Regions from separate parts of the Homo sapiens genome. Here region 2 is linked to region 1. The links come from fine-mapping of genetic effects on gene expression. A gene starts in region 1. The other region holds a variant in brackets. All regions are shown on one strand. Distances are between the middles of the regions. Region 1 holds the start of SH3BGRL3 (SH3 domain binding glutamate rich protein like 3). Region 2 overlaps CEP85 (centrosomal protein 85).

Evidence for each region. PIP is the estimated chance that this variant, and not a neighbour inherited with it, causes the effect.
Region 2: its variant is fine-mapped to the expression of SH3BGRL3 in whole blood (TOPMed, PIP above 0.99).

The regions. Positions count from the first base shown.
Region 1 is chr1:26,275,310-26,283,637 of GRCh38, reverse strand. It overlaps SH3BGRL3 (SH3 domain binding glutamate rich protein like 3), which reads right to left and starts at 3,552. Exons shown (of 3, transcript NM_031286.4): 1 at 3,435-3,552; 2 at 2,706-2,873; 3 at 2,116-2,580. The coding sequence starts at 3,482. The coding sequence ends at 2,515. CEP85 (centrosomal protein 85) reads right to left here. Exons shown (of 14, transcript NM_001319944.2): 13 at 6,878-7,103; 14 at 4,830-6,502. The coding sequence ends at 6,345. UBXN11 (UBX domain protein 11) reads left to right here. Exons shown (of 15, transcript NM_001389556.1): 13 at 701-774; 14 at 849-989; 15 at 1,069-1,356. The coding sequence ends at 1,339. RefSeq lists enhancers at 2,257-3,143, 3,144-4,031, 6,582-7,781 and silencers at 3,271-3,720, 3,197-3,768.
Region 2 is chr1:26,235,453-26,243,780 of GRCh38, reverse strand. CEP85 (centrosomal protein 85) reads right to left here. Exons shown (of 14, transcript NM_001319944.2): 2 at 3,943-4,019. The coding sequence starts at 3,997. Among named protein-coding and RNA genes, the nearest start is that of CEP85, 5.4 kb to the right of the region's middle. The variant C/T (reference allele first, on the strand shown) is at 4,085.

The DNA of each region.
Region 1 (8,328 bases):
CACATTCCCACCACCCACCACCCTAGTCTAGGGTTCAGAGTGTCTCTCCCAGACAGCTGCCTCCCACTGCCACTCCTGCCCCTGCTGACCATCCTCCAGGCTGCCTTCCCTGTTGAAATGTTCCAGTGGTTCTTGAGATAAAGCCAGGTTCCTTATGCTGGCACTCAAGGCCCGTCCTATATTGCCAGGCCCCTCCTCACACCAACCTTTTCCTTCCAGTCCAATTGAGCCCCAGCTTCAGCCACACATAATGCTGGCAGTTGCCCAAATGTGTCGCCACCTCTAGGAAGCTTTCCCTGAACCCAGGATCTTTGTTGATGCTGTCTGGAATATCCCTGCATCCATTCCATTTCTAAGGACTCCCATTCATCCTTCAGTCACAGCTCAGTTGTCATTTTCCGAGGGAAGCCTTCCCTGACCCCAGGCTGGGGTGGGCTTCCAGCCTGATCATCGTCTGTGTGGGGTTCTGTCTCCATTAGACTGAAACGGGGGGTTACCTGGGGGGAACCATGGGGCTGCCTCCCAGAACCTTCTTCCCCTTCCATTGCCTCTCCTCTGGCCTTGGTTTATACAGAACACCCCCTCCCGCTTTGCTCACTGGTCTCATCTGTCCCTGGTCAAGGAAGTGTCCCTCTAAGGTTTGTGGGGATGACTCAAATGGGGCCTAGGGCTCTGTCCACCCTCCACTGATACCTTCCAGAACTGCTGCCCATTGCCTGCCCGGATCCAGGAGATTGTGGTGGAGACGCCCACCTTGGCCGCTGAGCGAGAGAGGTGAGGGCGGGATGAGGAGGTGAGGGCCTGGGGGCGTTGGGTCACCGCGTGCTGATGGCCTCTGGGCTGTGCAGGAGCCAGGAGTCACCCAACACGCCGGCACCCCCGCTCTCCATGCTGCGCATCAAGTCTGAGAATGGGGAACAGGCCTTCCTACTGATGATGCAGCCTGACAACACCATTGGGGACGTGCGAGCTCTGCTAGCGCAGGCCAGGTGGGTGCAGGGCAGGGCCAGGGCCACAGAGGGGCTCTGGTCCCACTGCCCAGCCTGATCTGCTCTGCCTGGTCCCCAGGGTCATGGATGCCTCTGCCTTTGAGATCTTCAGCACATTCCCGCCCACCCTCTACCAGGACGATACACTCACGCTGCAGGCTGCAGGCCTTGTGCCCAAAGCAGCACTGCTGCTGCGGGCACGCCGAGCCCCGAAGTCCAGCCTGAAATTCAGTCCTGGTCCCTGTCCCGGTCCCGGTCCCGGCCCCAGTCCCGGTCCCGGTCCCGGCCCCAGTCCCGGTCCCGGTCCCGGCCCCAGTCCCTGTCCTGGACCCAGTCCCAGCCCCCAATAAAGCACCCGCCCCCTCAACCCGCTGCTCCGCCAGGCTCTTGGGTGGGCCATCTCGCCAGGCACGTAGGAAAGGCCTGGGACCAGCTGGGCCAGGGAGGGGGCGGTGCCGACCCGCCCCTTGGTAACTCGAGCCCCGGCTGGCGGGCCTGGCTGCTGGGTCTTTGTCTTCTAGGTTCCTCTTTCTCCCAAGAAGGGCTAAGTGGATCCTGTGAAGGGAGGGATGCAGTGGGGGGAAGGAGCTGGCCCCAGCTGGGTTTACATTCTCAGCTGGGACAGCAGAGCCTCACTGTGTATGTGTGCAGCCAGCAGATACCTGTGCACAGGCACAGACCCACCAACTCGTGGGGACACTTCAACACCGCACAAAGCCATTTTGCCACTAGACCCATGCCCCCAAATTAGCAGAACTGCAGCTGGGTACCCACCTCCCATGATACACTCATTCTTAGCCATTGTGCTCCAACACAGGCGCATGGGATGGCCACACTCACTGACAGGCATGGAGATGTGCACTACACACCAAGGCACAAGCATGATATGGACACATGCATGTGAACTGGAGGGTGGCCCACCCAGACATCTCCAGAAACCACTGGTCCATACAGGTATTTGTGTGTCAGACATATCCAAACACATGCACTAACAAACACAGAGGTGACAGTCACAAGAGAACAGCTCAGCCACCCTTCCCACAGAGCAGTCTCAGCACAGTCACAACTACCAACCTTGCCCAGGGCAGGGACCCAGGAGGCCCAGGCCACAACCAACCAGACACAGTGCCAATGGAACAGGACATCATTTAATTGCCTCTAGGGTCCTCCTGGGAGAGGGACTGCGGGGCCTTTGGCAGAGCTCTGGCTGATGGAACCAACAGAGGTGCCCATCAGCCAGTGCCAGGCAGGATGGCGGCCCCAATGCTTGGCTGGGGGCAGCCAGCATTTGGGGCTGTTGCTTAAGACAATTTCTGAGACTAATGGGTAAGGAATGTTGCCTTTAGATGGAGGAGAGGGGACTACATTTAGAGAGGAGGGAGGAGAAGTGGCCTGCATTGGGGGAGGGACTCTAAGGTTAGGTTAGGAATGACAGGGAGTTGGTCAAAAGGTCCTTCATGGCCAGGTGAAGGCTGGGGGGAGTGTGGTGATGGAGTCCAGCAGGGGAACTCTGGACAGGCTTGACTCAAGCCAGCTTCAGGAACTCCTGCAGCGTGTTTTGTTCCACAGCCTCCACGAAGAGCTCATAGTCCTGGAGAAGGGGAGGCGAGGGGTGGTCACCTGAATGCAGGGGGCCCAAGTGCTTTGTGGCAGATATGACCCTGGCTAGAGTCCTCTTCCAACACTCCCCCCACCCCCCCGTCCCCCAGCCCATACCCCACAGTACTGGTCCCCGTTGACAATCTGGGGTGGGGTGGCCTTGGGGTTGCCTGCCAAGGCTCGCATCTCATCCCTCAGGGCGTTGTCCTGGGAGATGTCCACTAGCTGGTATTGGATGCGCTTCCCATCCAGGATTCGGGTCACCTCGCTCTGCTGGGACTTGATCTGGGGACAGAGGGTGGGTAGGGGTTAGTGGATAGGCTGGAGGATTTATGGGGGAAATGCTGGGCAGGGTGAGAGAGGCTGTGACCAGGAGCTTTTGTCCCCCCATTCCCCTCCACACTAGGGGAGGGTTCTGGCCTCTAGGAGTTGGGAGGATGAGTCAGGCTTGAGGTGGTGCAGGATGAAGAGAGGGATTATCAGCCACGGGGGAGGGGGTCAGAGTGAAGGGAAGTGGGATCAGGCTCAGGGTGGGGAGGGGAGGGGAGGGCAGGCTGCGGTCGTGGTCAGGGTCAGCCCGGTAGTGGGAGTGCAGAGAATGGGTGTGGGGTTGATGGGGGATGGGCACGGGAAGTTCATGCCGCGGCTGCAAAGGACCCAGGATGCCCGATGAAGACATTCAGGATGGGGCCTCGGGACCGGGTCCGGGAGACCGTGCCCAGCACCTCGCCGACGCACTCCCCCCACCCCGCCCCCGTCCTGGGGGTGGGTCCCGGGCGCTAGGGTCCAAAGCACCGGGATACAGCCCTGCGCTTTCCCCCAGCGCCAGTCCGGGCGCGCACTTACTTCGCGGGAGCCGGTGACCGACGTGCTGTAGACGCGCAGGCCGCTCATGCTGGGGGTAGACAGACGGGCCGGCGGGCAGAGGGCGGCGGTAGCGGCAGCTGCACTGCCGGGAGACGACGCCGCCGCCGTGCTCGGGAGCGGTTTCCTTCCTGCTCCGCCCGCCAAGTCATCGCGCTCGGGACCAATGGGCGGCGCGGGCAGGCGGGGTGGGACCTGCGCGACACCGCCCCGCACGCCAGAGGCCCCTTCCCTTCCCCCTCGGTTACCAGGCGCGCAACGGACCCGTCCCACGCAGGGCGCCCCTTCTGCGGCTGCCCTGATCGTCCTTTTCGGCCCTTCCCTGATCTGGAGCTCAGTGTGAGACTGGGGAGGGGCCTGGGTGGCAGGACAGGCCCGGGAGAGGGTCTGGCAGAAGCCTCCCTCTCCAGCCGCACACAGGTTTGGTGCATCCAACTCCCCAGCCACGAGAGCCGCTCTCTCCAGGAGGAGGTGCTCTAATAGCACAGGGAAGCTTGGGGCTTTGGAAGGTTTGAGCTGCTTTCAGACCCAAAGTTCTCTAAGAACCTTGCTCCAAGGGATCCCTCGCTCCACCACCCAACACGCACCACTAACCCTAGGGGATAGGAAGCATAGGACAGCAGGAAGAGCCCATGCTTAGAGATTTTCCCCCAAGTTCCTCTCCACTCAGGTGGGAAGGTTTAGACAAGGAAGGGTGATAGCAGGACGCAGAGGCCACACCCTCAAGGAACCAGATGGAGACCAAGGCTGACAGCTGGAAAGCGTGGCGGTAGAGGATGATGTCAGGACTCGAGAGCCTAGGCTCAAGCTGACCCTTAAGATCCACCCCAGGTCTTGGGGTGGTCCAAGCTCAACCCCAGCTCCATGCTGCAGATGGCATTCCCAAACTGCTACTACTCCCAGCAAGAATTCAGCGGTTGAGGGGGCAGACTCCAGCAACGAGCCCAACTTTGGAGACCTAGCTGTCTGGCACTCAACATCATGCTTCTCAGATGTCCCCCTGGTCCAGGGCTCAGGCAGGTTAACAGCCCAGAAAGACAACCCTTGCTCTGGTAAAGCCACTTCCTCACAGCAACCCAGAGGCTGCCAACTTCCTGAGAGGACTGCTGAAACTTTCCAGTGACAAACTTCTGTTATGACTCAGGGAAGGTTTGCCCAAGAGAAAGTGAGTGGGAAGAGATCTGGTTCTATAGAACGACAGAGGAGCAGAGGTGGCAGAGATAGATAGGGACATGAGGCTGGCTGGACCTGCCAAAGGTTCCTCCACGCTGCTGCCTGGGGGACCTGGCTGAACACCCAGGTGTTTGGCTCTAACAAGCCAAAGTGAGGGGTAGAATAGCGTGGTGGTGGTGATGGAAGGGTATGGAAAACTGAGGAGTCTGTTAAGATACTTTATTTTATAATCAAAATACGCAATACAAACAAATGGACATAACAAAGATTCATATAAATAACTGGTTATAAACTTTATGAGGAAAAATACCCGTCAGCATGGTGGCTGGGCTCCCAATGCACAGGGTGGAGACCAACCAGGCGGCTCTGCCTTTAAGCAGCAGGAGCCCAGAGGCTGAAGGGCTGGCTGGGTGGGGCTGCTCTGAATGGAAGGGATAAGTCACTCCATAAATAAAACACAAACTTGTAAAAACACTTAAGAAAGAGCCTCATTCAGGCCCAGGCATGAGGTCCAAGATGCTGCCAACAGCCCAAAGCTTAGCAAAAATCTTGTAGTGGCTGACTGGCCCACACGTGGCCCCTGCCTGGCCTGGCTCCAGATCTAGAGGAGGCACGGCTGGCCCAACAACCAGATACTAACAAGTGTGAGATGCTCCCTAAACCAGGAGGCAAGAAAAACCAGAGGGCAAAGGTCCCTCACTAAAGCCCCAGAGAAACAACCCAGGAAACACTAAAAGCTGTACTTTAAAGCTGACTTGTACTGGGTACTCTGAACTTTCAAGGAGGCCAGAGCAGGAAAGGGAAAGGAATAACCCCCACCACCCCCAACACAAGAGAGGCACAAATTAGAGGGCTGGGCACAGGCTGTAGCCCTGGGTGAGGGGGTAAGCAGCTTGACAGTTGCTCTGTGGTCTCTGGGATATAATTCTGCCCAAGGCTAGAACCACAGAGAAGAGTTTGCACTCTTAAGTCCAGGAAGGGGACTACCTGGAAGGCCTGAGAACAAAGGAGAAAGTTTAGCACACTAAACACATGGCCAGGACCCTAGGGACACAAGGCAGCTGGAGAGTGGGATCTCTTGTTAAATGGCATGGTAGGCAGATTAGAGTCCTGGCTATAATCCCTAGGGCCCCAATCCTAGTAGTTACGTGCTAACCAACACATTACCCTGAGGCTTCTGGGAGAACAAGAGCCCTGAGGAAGAAGCAGTAAGACCAGGCATGAGAAAACCCAGAAAGCCAGCTCAGTTCCCAAGAAGGCTGGCACATGGGGCCTGAGAATTCTTAAATGGCCATTGTCACTGGTACTTGCTCAGCCTTTCCAGGCCCCTCTGATGAGCTCTCTAATCAGCAGGACCAAGGTGTGAAGTGGGAATGAACATGGATCCATCCCATTGGATGGAGAAGAAAGGTGGACAGCCTGTTCGTCTCTCATGTCAGCCTAGGGCTGGGAACAGTTTGTGAGGACTTATCTGTTGTACCTGCCAAAAGTTAATTAGTAACTCACCGTCTAGAGTGAATTAACAGGACAAACGTAATCCAACATGCCAGTGTGGGTAGGACACAGTTCCCTAATCAGCCCTTGGCCCCCAGATGCAGGCTCTCCCCTCCCCTCTGAGACCTCTCTGGGAATAGCAGACAAGAGAATGTCAGGGCAGAAACCTGCTGGACTAGGCTCTCAGCAGCCCAGCTCCTCCCTGGGGGAATCCCCCAGAATTCCTCACTGTGTGACACAGTTTTCTCCCATGTCCTGGGCATATCTGTCTGACATGGTGGTCCTTAAGTCCTCAATGTCACGACGCAGCTGTTGAACCTCTTCTAGTTTCCTCTTGATCACATCTGGCTTCTGCAAATCTAGCTGAGTCTCTGGGTGCTGTGCTGCTGGGGAGAAGAGCATTTCAAGAGAATGTTAGTTATGAGACATTTTCATGTGGAGGGTGCAGTATGGATAGGCAGTATCTTGAACCCACAGTCTTGGGACATGCACTTTAAAAAAAGCATCTGGGGACAGTGGGTTAATTTGCTGCTGAAGGTCCACTTTTAGTTTGTCCTGCATGCAAGTACCCCATAGCTTGTTTCCAAAAACAGATTTGTGAACACCTACTTTGTGAAACAAATAAATGTCCAGAGGGCAGTGGCCAGGACTATGTACTCTGTCTACATATTACCACAAGAATATGGGAAAGCAGGATGGGGGAGAGAAGAGAAAGAAGGACCCTCCTTCCTGGGCCCCAGACTGGTCTGAGGACTCACAGTGAATGCCCAGGAGCAGGGAGAGATTGGGGTCATGGCCCTGGGCCCTCTGGGTCACAATGCTACAGACAGCCTGCAGATCTTGAAGGCAACTGGCCAACTCCTGGTGCAGCTCAAGTGCCAGCTGGGCCGTGTCTGGTGAAGGTGGAGACCCTGGTTGGGCCTGGCGCAGGTGTTCCTGGAGTGTCAGATTCTTCTCAATCAAGTCCTGGTTTTGCACTGAAAGCTGAGCAGACAGATGGGTAAGCACATTAACTCAGGCCCAGGGAGAGGAAGAGTATCTGTGCATGAGTGTGTGGGTGTGGAAGGGATGGGTGAGTCATAGGCAGTGTCCCTCCTTCCCCAACCCTACCCCTGCCAACAGGCTTTTAGCACTTCTCCCACTATCAGTATCAGGCCTGGTTCTTCCTGTGGGTAGGTTGGGCCCACAGGGCTCTAGCACTGGAGAGGAAGCCAACCCTCAACTGGTTCTGAATCATCAGCATCCAAGTTTCTGTTCAAGAACCAGAGAAGATGCTCCCGCCCCTAGGAACTCTATCTCAAGCCAGTCCCTCAGCCAACTCTGTTAGCCAGGCTATTAGAGAAGGCTTAATGTGAACCGTGAAATCTGAGGAGACACTGGTTTCAATCTCTCCCTGCCACCCTGACAAAAGTGGCCACCAGCCAGCCTGATCACAGTGTGTCAGAGGAATAAAGAGAGTAAGAAAGACAATATGACAGCTAGTAGCCACTAGGTGGGGGGCTGGAGAAGCTGGAACCTGGAGGATCCAGCCCTGGAACAAGTCCTGCCTTTTCAAACTCTCACCTCAGTGGAGTCAGACTTTATTACAAAAACCATCTATTCATGTATGTCTGTCTGTTTCCCTCTCTTCCTGACAGCTTAATCCACTTTCCTTCCCTTCCTACCTTGATTGTATTTTTATAGAGTCTGAATAGAGTCCGTCCTTCAGTCCCAGGCCCTCCACCCACACTGGGCCATGTGACAATCCTAACTCAAGGAGGTTCCTTCCTAGGCACTAGGCCAGTCAGTGAACTTGGTTGCCCCCTGCTGACAGCTCTGTTTAGTGCATGAAGGCCACCAAATCCTCAGTCTTCTTGAACTCTCCACTCCCCAACCCCAGAAACCTGTGGCTTCAAGACAAAGGAAGAGAGAATGACTTTCCCCATCAAAAAGCATTCCTGGGCCCAGCGCAGTGGCTCACGACTGTAATCCCAGCACTTTGGGAGGCCAAAGTGGGCGGATCACAAGGTCAGGAGATGAAGACCATTCTGGCCAACATGGTGAAACCCCACCTCAACTAAAATACAAAAAATTAGCCGGGCGTGGTGGCGCGTGCCTGTAGTCCCAGCTACACAGGAGGCTGAGGCAGGGGAATCGCTTGAACCTGGGAGGCGGAGGTTGCAGTGAGCCGAGATTGCGCCACTGCACTCTAGCCTGGCGACAGAGCAAG
Region 2 (8,328 bases), 40 kb after region 1:
TAATCCACCCGCCTTGGCCTCCCAAAGTGCTGGGATTACAGGTGTGAGCCACTGCGCCAAGCCTGAGCTAGTTAATTTTAAGTGGAAATAGTATGAGAAGTGAGAATATTCAAAGATGTTAATAAGACCCATGAAGAATCCAGGAGTACTGGAACAGAAAACAATCATATTTAATAGCAGTGGCCATTTATTGAAACCTGTAAAGCCACAGGACCTTACAAACATAATCTTGCCTACCTACTTACTGAAAAGTATTACCACCCCTATTTTACAGAGGGGAGGGCTGATATTTGAATCCAGTTCTTTCTGATTCCAAAACCCACATTCTTTCCTCTTTCTTACAGTTTCTCAATGGTGCTTTTGGCATTCTGGGGATGACCATTCTTCAATGTGTAGTCTATACATTACAGAATGGTTTAGCATCCCTGGTTCCCACTCACTGAATGCCAGCAGCAACCCTCAACCAAGACCACCATCACTGTGAAACCAGAAAATAACCATATAGTTCCAAATGATTCCTAGGGCAACAAGCAGTCCAGTCCCCAGTTGAAAATCATTGCTTCGAGGTTGCAGTGAGCAAAGATTGCGCCACTGCACTCCAGCCTAGGCAACAAGAGCGAAACCCCATCTCAGAAAAAAAAAAAAAAAAAAAGAAAATCACTGCTTCACTGAACCAGGGTACCCTCAATAGGTGAATCCTATTGAGATCAAGGTGAGTTTTGAAAGTCAATCTGAAGAGCCTAGGGCTTTATCTTGAGAGCAACGTGAAGATATCACTAAAACTGCTGAGAAGGTTAAGACAAAAAGACTGATGAGATTTATTTGATTTAAAATATGCTGTTTGGGGGGAGGTAGGTAGGAAGTGTTCAATAAATACTTGATTCACTAACATTCTAGCAAAGACTTAAATTTATTTTCTAAAAACCACTATAATTTTCCTAAGGTGTATCTGGTGATCCATGTAAACAAATAAACAAACAAACAAAAAAACTAATGGCAGCTACTTATCCTCCATTTAACTTAAAGTGTGAAAGCCGATTTCAGAAAATACGGTTCTACAGACTCGCTGATCTAGTGGGAGGCAAATGATTGCTCCCACTAAATGATTACGCCCAAAGTAATTTGGACACAAATTACTTTATTCCTTTCTTCCAAGTTTAGTGCTTCTCTCATCTTTTTAATCTATTTTCTTCTACTTTTGCTCATTTTTTGCTACCCTTACTTTGGCTTTCTACTGAAGGCAACCTGACTTTCCCCAAATACTTCTTCTATTCTTTGGATCACAGTGACTGCCTGATTTGAAAGAATCTTTATACACTCAGTAATCTGTAATTGTTATAGAAGACACAGGCAACAATCCGAGTTTCTGAGCGGCATGAGATTAGCCAATGCTACTATACTAAGTTGGTGTAATTCTAGCCCAAAGCAAAGAAATCCCACCTTCTGGTGAGTCTACACAGCTTTTTCTCTCTAGTCAGTGTAAAATTTGCCAGGCCTTTTGAAACAGTTAAGATTGAGGGCCTCTATTACCATCTTCCTGACTTCCTACTGGAAACCGCTTCCCTGTTACTACTACTAATCTTCCACTCTTCATCGCTACCATTTTTCCATCCACCTACTCCATACCCTAATTCCAAAGAGTTATTTGTTAAAAATATATTTTGGTATATTTATAGAGGTTTACACTTATTTCAAAATTGAAGTTTAAATGCTGAAGTTGGCCGGGTGCAGTGGCTCATGCCTGTAATCCTAGCACTTTGGGAGGCGGGGGTGGGCAGATTACCTGAGCTCAGGAGTTGGAGACCAGCCTGGGCATATGGCGAAACCCGTCTCTACTAAAAATACAAAAAAATTAGCCAGGTGTGGTGGTGCATGCCTGTAATCCCAGCTACTTGGGAGGCTGAGGCACAAGAATCACTTAAACCCAGGAGACAGAAGTTGCAGTGAGCTGAGATTGTGCCACTGCACTCCAGCCTGGGCCACAGAACAAGACTCCGTCTCCAAAAAAAAAAAAGAAAAGCTGAAATTTTTTGTGTTATAGTGCATGTCCTATCAGTAGCATCCTTATCAATTATTAAGACCATTATTAATCTGAATGAGATACTATTGAAGAGAGAAAAAAGCCATAGGAAAGGCATTGTTCCAAAAACTTGCATTATATACATAATTGTCATAGAAACTGTACAAACCTAAGAGAATGTGCAGCACATAGCAGATGTTTAAAAAATATTTCCTGAGGCCGGGTGCAGTGGCTCACGCCTGTAATCCCAGCACTTTGCGAGGCCCAGGCGGGCAGATCACAAGGTCAGGAGATTGAGACCATCCTGGCTAACATGGTGAAACCCCGTCTCTATTAAAAAATGCAAAAAAATTAGCTGGGCATGGTGGCGGGCACCTGTAGTCCCAGCTACTTGGGAGGCTGAGGCAGGAGAATGGCATGAACCCGGGAAGCGGAGCTTGTAGTGAGCCGAGATCACGCCACTGCACTCTAGCCTGGGTGACAGAGCGAGACTCCATTTCAAAAAAAAAAAAAAAATTCTGCTGAATGAATCTTGAATTGATTCAACCAAAGCTTATAATGGTGCCTACTCTATGCAAGGCAGCATGCCTAAGAGAATACACCAAACATTTACCAAATATCTACGCTGAGTAAGGCACTGTGAGATTTTAAAGTTAAATAAAACATACCCTGAGTTGAATTAAACGTGCCCTCTTCTTTACCAATACCCCAGAATTCAACAAGTCATTTTTCTAAAATATTACTTATTTGAAATATATATTATCTACTTAATATGCCTGCACAGTGCATACATATATTTATGTGTTTAATATACAGTCAGCTCTCCATATCCATGGTTTCTTTTTTTTCCCCTTTTTTTTTTTGAGACACAGTCTCACTCTGTTGCCCAGGCTGGAGTGCAGTGGCGTCATCTCAGCTCACCTCAACCTCTGCTTCCCGTGTTCAAGTGATTCTCCTGCCTCAGCCTCCCAAGTAGCTGGGATTATTATAGGCACATGCCACTGCACCCGGCTAATTTTTGTATTTTTAGTAGACATGGAGTTTTACCATGTTGGCCAGGCTGGTCTCAAACTCCTGACCTCAGGTGATCCACCCGCCTTGGGCTCCCAAAGTGCTGGGATTACAGGCATGAGCCACAGCGCCTGGCCATATCCGTGGTTTCTACGTTTGTGAATTCAACCAATTTTTTTTTTTAATGGTATCTTACTGAATGTGCATAAGACTTGTTTTTCTTCTTATTCCCCAAACAATACAGTATAACTATTTACATAGCATTTACATTGCATTGGGTATTACAAGTAATCTAGAGACGATTTAAGGTAAACATTAGGATATACACAGGTTATATGCAAATACCACACCATTTTATATCAGGGACTTGAGTATCTGTGGATTTTGCTATCTGCAGGAGGTCTTGGAACCAGTCCGCCATGGACACTTAAGGACTGTATATATTTAATATATCTACTGAAGTTTCAAAATCTTGTTAATCCATTCTGAAGATAAATTCCTGAGTTTCTAGTAACAATGCAACGGAATCTGTTGGCATCCAAGCAGAATTCCTATTTTTGTGGGCTAGCAGATGACTGACCCACCCAGAGGACAAAGACAACATAGAACACAGTAATTTATGCTGTGTTTTTCTGATTTCAAATGGAACTATGTTCCAAAGTCATTCTGTTCCAATCCTTTATATGTCGTCCTCTCCCAACCACGTGGTCCTGTTGAAAGCCACATAGCACAAGAGATAAATACTTGTTCCCTCAGAGACCTGTTTTTATATTCAATGAAGCCCCATGTTATTTTTATTCTTTTAGCACCAGCATTTCAGTGAATGCTTGTTTGTTCAATATTTACCTTAAGGAATATGAAAAAACAGAACAAAGGTCAGAATTTAACCCAGAAAACTTCTGACTACTCACTCGGTGAAGTGACGTGAGAGATCCCCTCAGTTGGATATTTCTCCTGCATGGCCATCAATCACAGTTATTTAAGCCAACTGTAGAATGAAGGAATAACCAGTCAGTTCTCTGAAGTATCTTTAATTCCCCGCAACTCAGTTCC[C/T]ATTCAACTGAAACTGTCAAAACCATATAGAATATTCAAGTATTTGGCCAGGCACAGTGGCTCACACCTGTAATCCCAGCACTTTGGGAGGCCAAGGCGGGCAGATCAACTGAGGTCAGGAGTTCGAGACCAGCCTGACCAACATGGGGAAACCCCATTTCTACTAAAAACACAAAAATTGGCCGGGCATGGTGGCACACATCTGTAGTCCCAGCTACTTGGGAGGCTGAGGCACAAGGATTGCTTGAACCCGGGAGGCAGAGGTTTCAGTGAGCCAAGATCACACCACTGCACTCCAGCCTGGGCAACTGAGCAAGACTCCATCTCAAAAAAAATAAAAAAGAATATTCCAGTATTCTAAATGTTATATTCCTAAGGATATTTAGGAGTAAATATGTTTTTACATGTTTTACTTCTAAGGATATTTTTAAGACAAAGTAAATCCCAATACTCCACTCTACTTCTCTTCCCAAATCCAGTATAGAAAACCTAGAACCAGAGATTACCAATACAGATTCCATACGGTCCTAGAACCCTTCTGATTTTTATAAAATTTAAAAATATTACTTTTAATTAACAAACTTTACCATGAATCTTCTTAGCCATGGGGACCTGATGACAGGACGAGGTGGATAAAGAACTAAAGAACTAAACCAACAGTGAAGTATTACAGCATCAATTATGATTAACACAAAACAAATTCCTCAATTCTTCCAGTAATTAAAGTCAGTCATACGATGTAAAAAGATGGGAAAGAATTCTTGCTCATAAGTAGAACTCCAATCCTGAGCTAGGAACGTGAAGTTCTCGTCCCATGTTCTCACTCCTTAAAATATTTATATTTACAGTACACTAGGGGTAGGTGCTGAGAATTCAGCAGAAGTGGATTTGAAGTCTAAACAAATACACTTGAACCCACTAAACATTAAGTTATCAATTTATTAGCTGTGTAACCTTGGGCAAATTTCTTAGTATCTCTGTTCCTCATTTTCTTCATATAAAAATGAGGATAACAACACAACCTAATTCATGTTAATTCACTTATAATTAACTTACAACAGTTCCTGACACATACTAAGTGCTGTTATTACTTGGCAATTTACATCAACAAAAGTAGCACTGTACAGCCCATGGAAGATCAAGGAGTATCAACTCAGAAACTCTAAATTTATAAAAGCCCCAAAAGAGTTTGGGACAATTCGGCCGGGCTCAGTGGCTCACGCCTGTAATCCCAGCACTTTGGGAGGCCGAGGCAGGCGGATCACCTGAGGTCAGGAGTTCGAGACCAGCCAACATGGTGAAACCCCGTCTCTACTAAAAATACAAAAATTAGCCAGGCATGGTGGCAGGCGCCTGTAATCCCAGCTACTTGGGAGGCTGAGGCAGGAGAATCGCTTGGACCATGGAGGCGGAGGCTGCAGTGAGCCAAGATCGCGCCATTGCACTCCAGCCTGGGCGACAGAGCAAGACTCCGTCTCAAAAAAAAAAAAAAAAGAGTTTGGGACAATTCACAGAACATAATTCTATCACTCTGGAGAAAAAAGACTATATGGTACTATTTCTCTAATGTACTTTAGTGACCTCTATAGTATTCTCTTGTTACTAAGAGAATACTATAGAGGTCACTAAAGTACATAACAACCCAAACCCTTATTAATTCACTGCATCTACAATAGAAAGGGTATCATCCTCCACAATTCCAGTTCTTCACATACTGGGTGAGGGAAGCTTTGTTCAGTAATAAAAGCTTTAGTTTATGGCAAGTATGATTCAGTGAGTTAAATGATGACATAGAATGATTAGATTACCTCCTTACTAGTGATTTCCTTTCTTGTCAATATCAAAATCCTTTTCTTCACTCCTTTCTTTAAAGGATAACAAAATGGTAGGCGCACTGGATTCTAAGGTGTTTCTAAATTCAGACAAGTTGAAAATACGGTGACAGAAGGAGAACTCCGAGTTACCCTATGACTCAGCAATTCCACACTGAAGTATACACCCAAGAGAAATGAAAACACAGGTTTACACAAAAGCTTCAATAAGAATGTTCGTAGCAGCATTATTTACAATAGCCAAAAAGTGGAAACAACACAAACGTCCATGAGCTAATGAATGGATACATAAAATGTGGTATATCCAAAAAACAGAGTATTATTCAGCAATAAAAGGAAGTACTGATACATGTGACAACATGGATGAACACTGAAGACATGCAAAGTCAAAGAAGCCAAACAAAAGGCTTGATCCTATTTATATGAAATGTCAGAATAGGCAAATCCATAGAGACACAGATTAGTGATTGCAAAGGACTGAGAGGAGGGAGGGTAGGAGAATAGGAAGGGACTGCTAATGGATACCGGGTTTCTTTTCAGGGTGATCAAAATGTTCTGAGATTAGATAGTGGTGACTGACTGCACAACCTTGCCAATATATTAAAAACCTCTGAATTGCACACACATAAAATTAAATTTTATGTTATGTGATATAAGCCAAAAAAAAAATTCTAAGACATCCCCAACCACCTGAATGGATCCCTCCCCTTGGCCAATGGCATTCCAAAGTTAAGCTGAAAAACCTGTTAAGGCCATGATGGTGGTAGTGGTGGTGGAGTCCTACACCCCTCATTATACCCTCCTCCCTTCTGGAATTTAGGAAAAGCATTAACATTAACACAGATGTCTGTAAGAAACATTTATAATCTATTCTCTCTAAAGCCTACTATTTGGAGGCTTCATCTGTACAATAAAATGTTGATCCCCAGGATACCTTAACCCAGACATTCCTTTCTATTGATAACAACTTTCAACCAACTGCCAATCAGAAAATTTTGAAATCTACCTATGACCTGGAAGCCCCCACCCACTAAGAGTTGTCTTACCCTTCCAGATCAATGTAAATCTTACATGTATTTGACTGATGTCTCATGTCTACCTAAAATGTTTAAAACCAGGGCACACGTTATCAGGATCACCTGAGGGCTGTGTCAGGGGCCACTGGTCACCCATATTTGGCTCAGAATAAATCCCTTCAAATATTTCAGAGTCTGACCCTCATTGACAACAAATATCTCAAAAAAGAAAAACAGAAAGAAAGAAACCCCGTAAGGAGTAAAACAATACAAAATAAATCATTCTTGACTTAAGAATTAGATGAGCTACTGGTGGAAATTTTTGGGACAACTGAAGGAGACAGAAATTTCCTGGGATAAAAATGAGAGAAGTGAATGTACAAGAAGTAACACACCAGTTATAAAGCTTAGAAAGGGAGTGAATGGAGGCAGACAGAGGGGAAAAAAAAAAAAAGCACCCAACAGGATTGGTTTCCATCTTCAAAGCCCTTTAAACTACAGAAACAGTCACTCATTCAACAAATTTAACATGCATTCTGCACTTACTACCTATCAAACACTGTGCTCAACACTTTTTAAGTATCATGTCTCATGTTTCATGTTCACATCAACCCTATGAGGCAGTTACTATTATCCTCATTTTATGGATGAGAAAATAAAGGTTTACAGTAGTGAAGGTCATATGGCTAGGAAGAGGCTTCAAAGCCAGGACTGTACTCTAACGCTACAGTAGTCTAGTCAGCATTCTACATGTGACAAAACACAAAAAAAGAGATCAAGCATGGCACCACAAGTTGGAGTTTCTGCCTCAGACAGCTAGAGCTGCAAGCCTCAATTATATGAGCAGTAAAAGCTCATAAAATTTCTTCACTTTGTCCTTGGTCATCACCTAGGCTTTATTTCTCAAGTTGCTACCCAAGAATTAGATTTTGACTGCCGTAAGTATTTTTCCCCTATAAGAATTACAATCTAAGTGTGGCCGGGCGTGGTGGCTCACGCCTGTAATCCCAGCATTTTGGGAGGCCGAGGCGGGCGGATCACCTGAGGTCGGGAGTTTGAGACCAGCCTGACCAACATGGAGAAACGCCGTCTCTACTAAAAATACAAAATTATCCGTGCATGGTGGCGCATGCCTGTAATCCCAGCTACTCGGGAGGCTGAGGCAGGAGAATCGCTTGAACCTGGGAGGCGGAGGTTGCGGTGAGCCGACATCGCGCCACGGCACTCCAGCCTGGGCAACAAGAGCAAAACTCCGTCTCACAAAAAAAAAAAAAAAAAAAAGAATTACAATCTAAGTGTGGAACATCATGCTTGGCAGCTGTTAAGAGAACCACATCAAGACAAGAGAGGATTTGAAGGGATACACAGACAGCTGACACAGACACACGAAGGATCT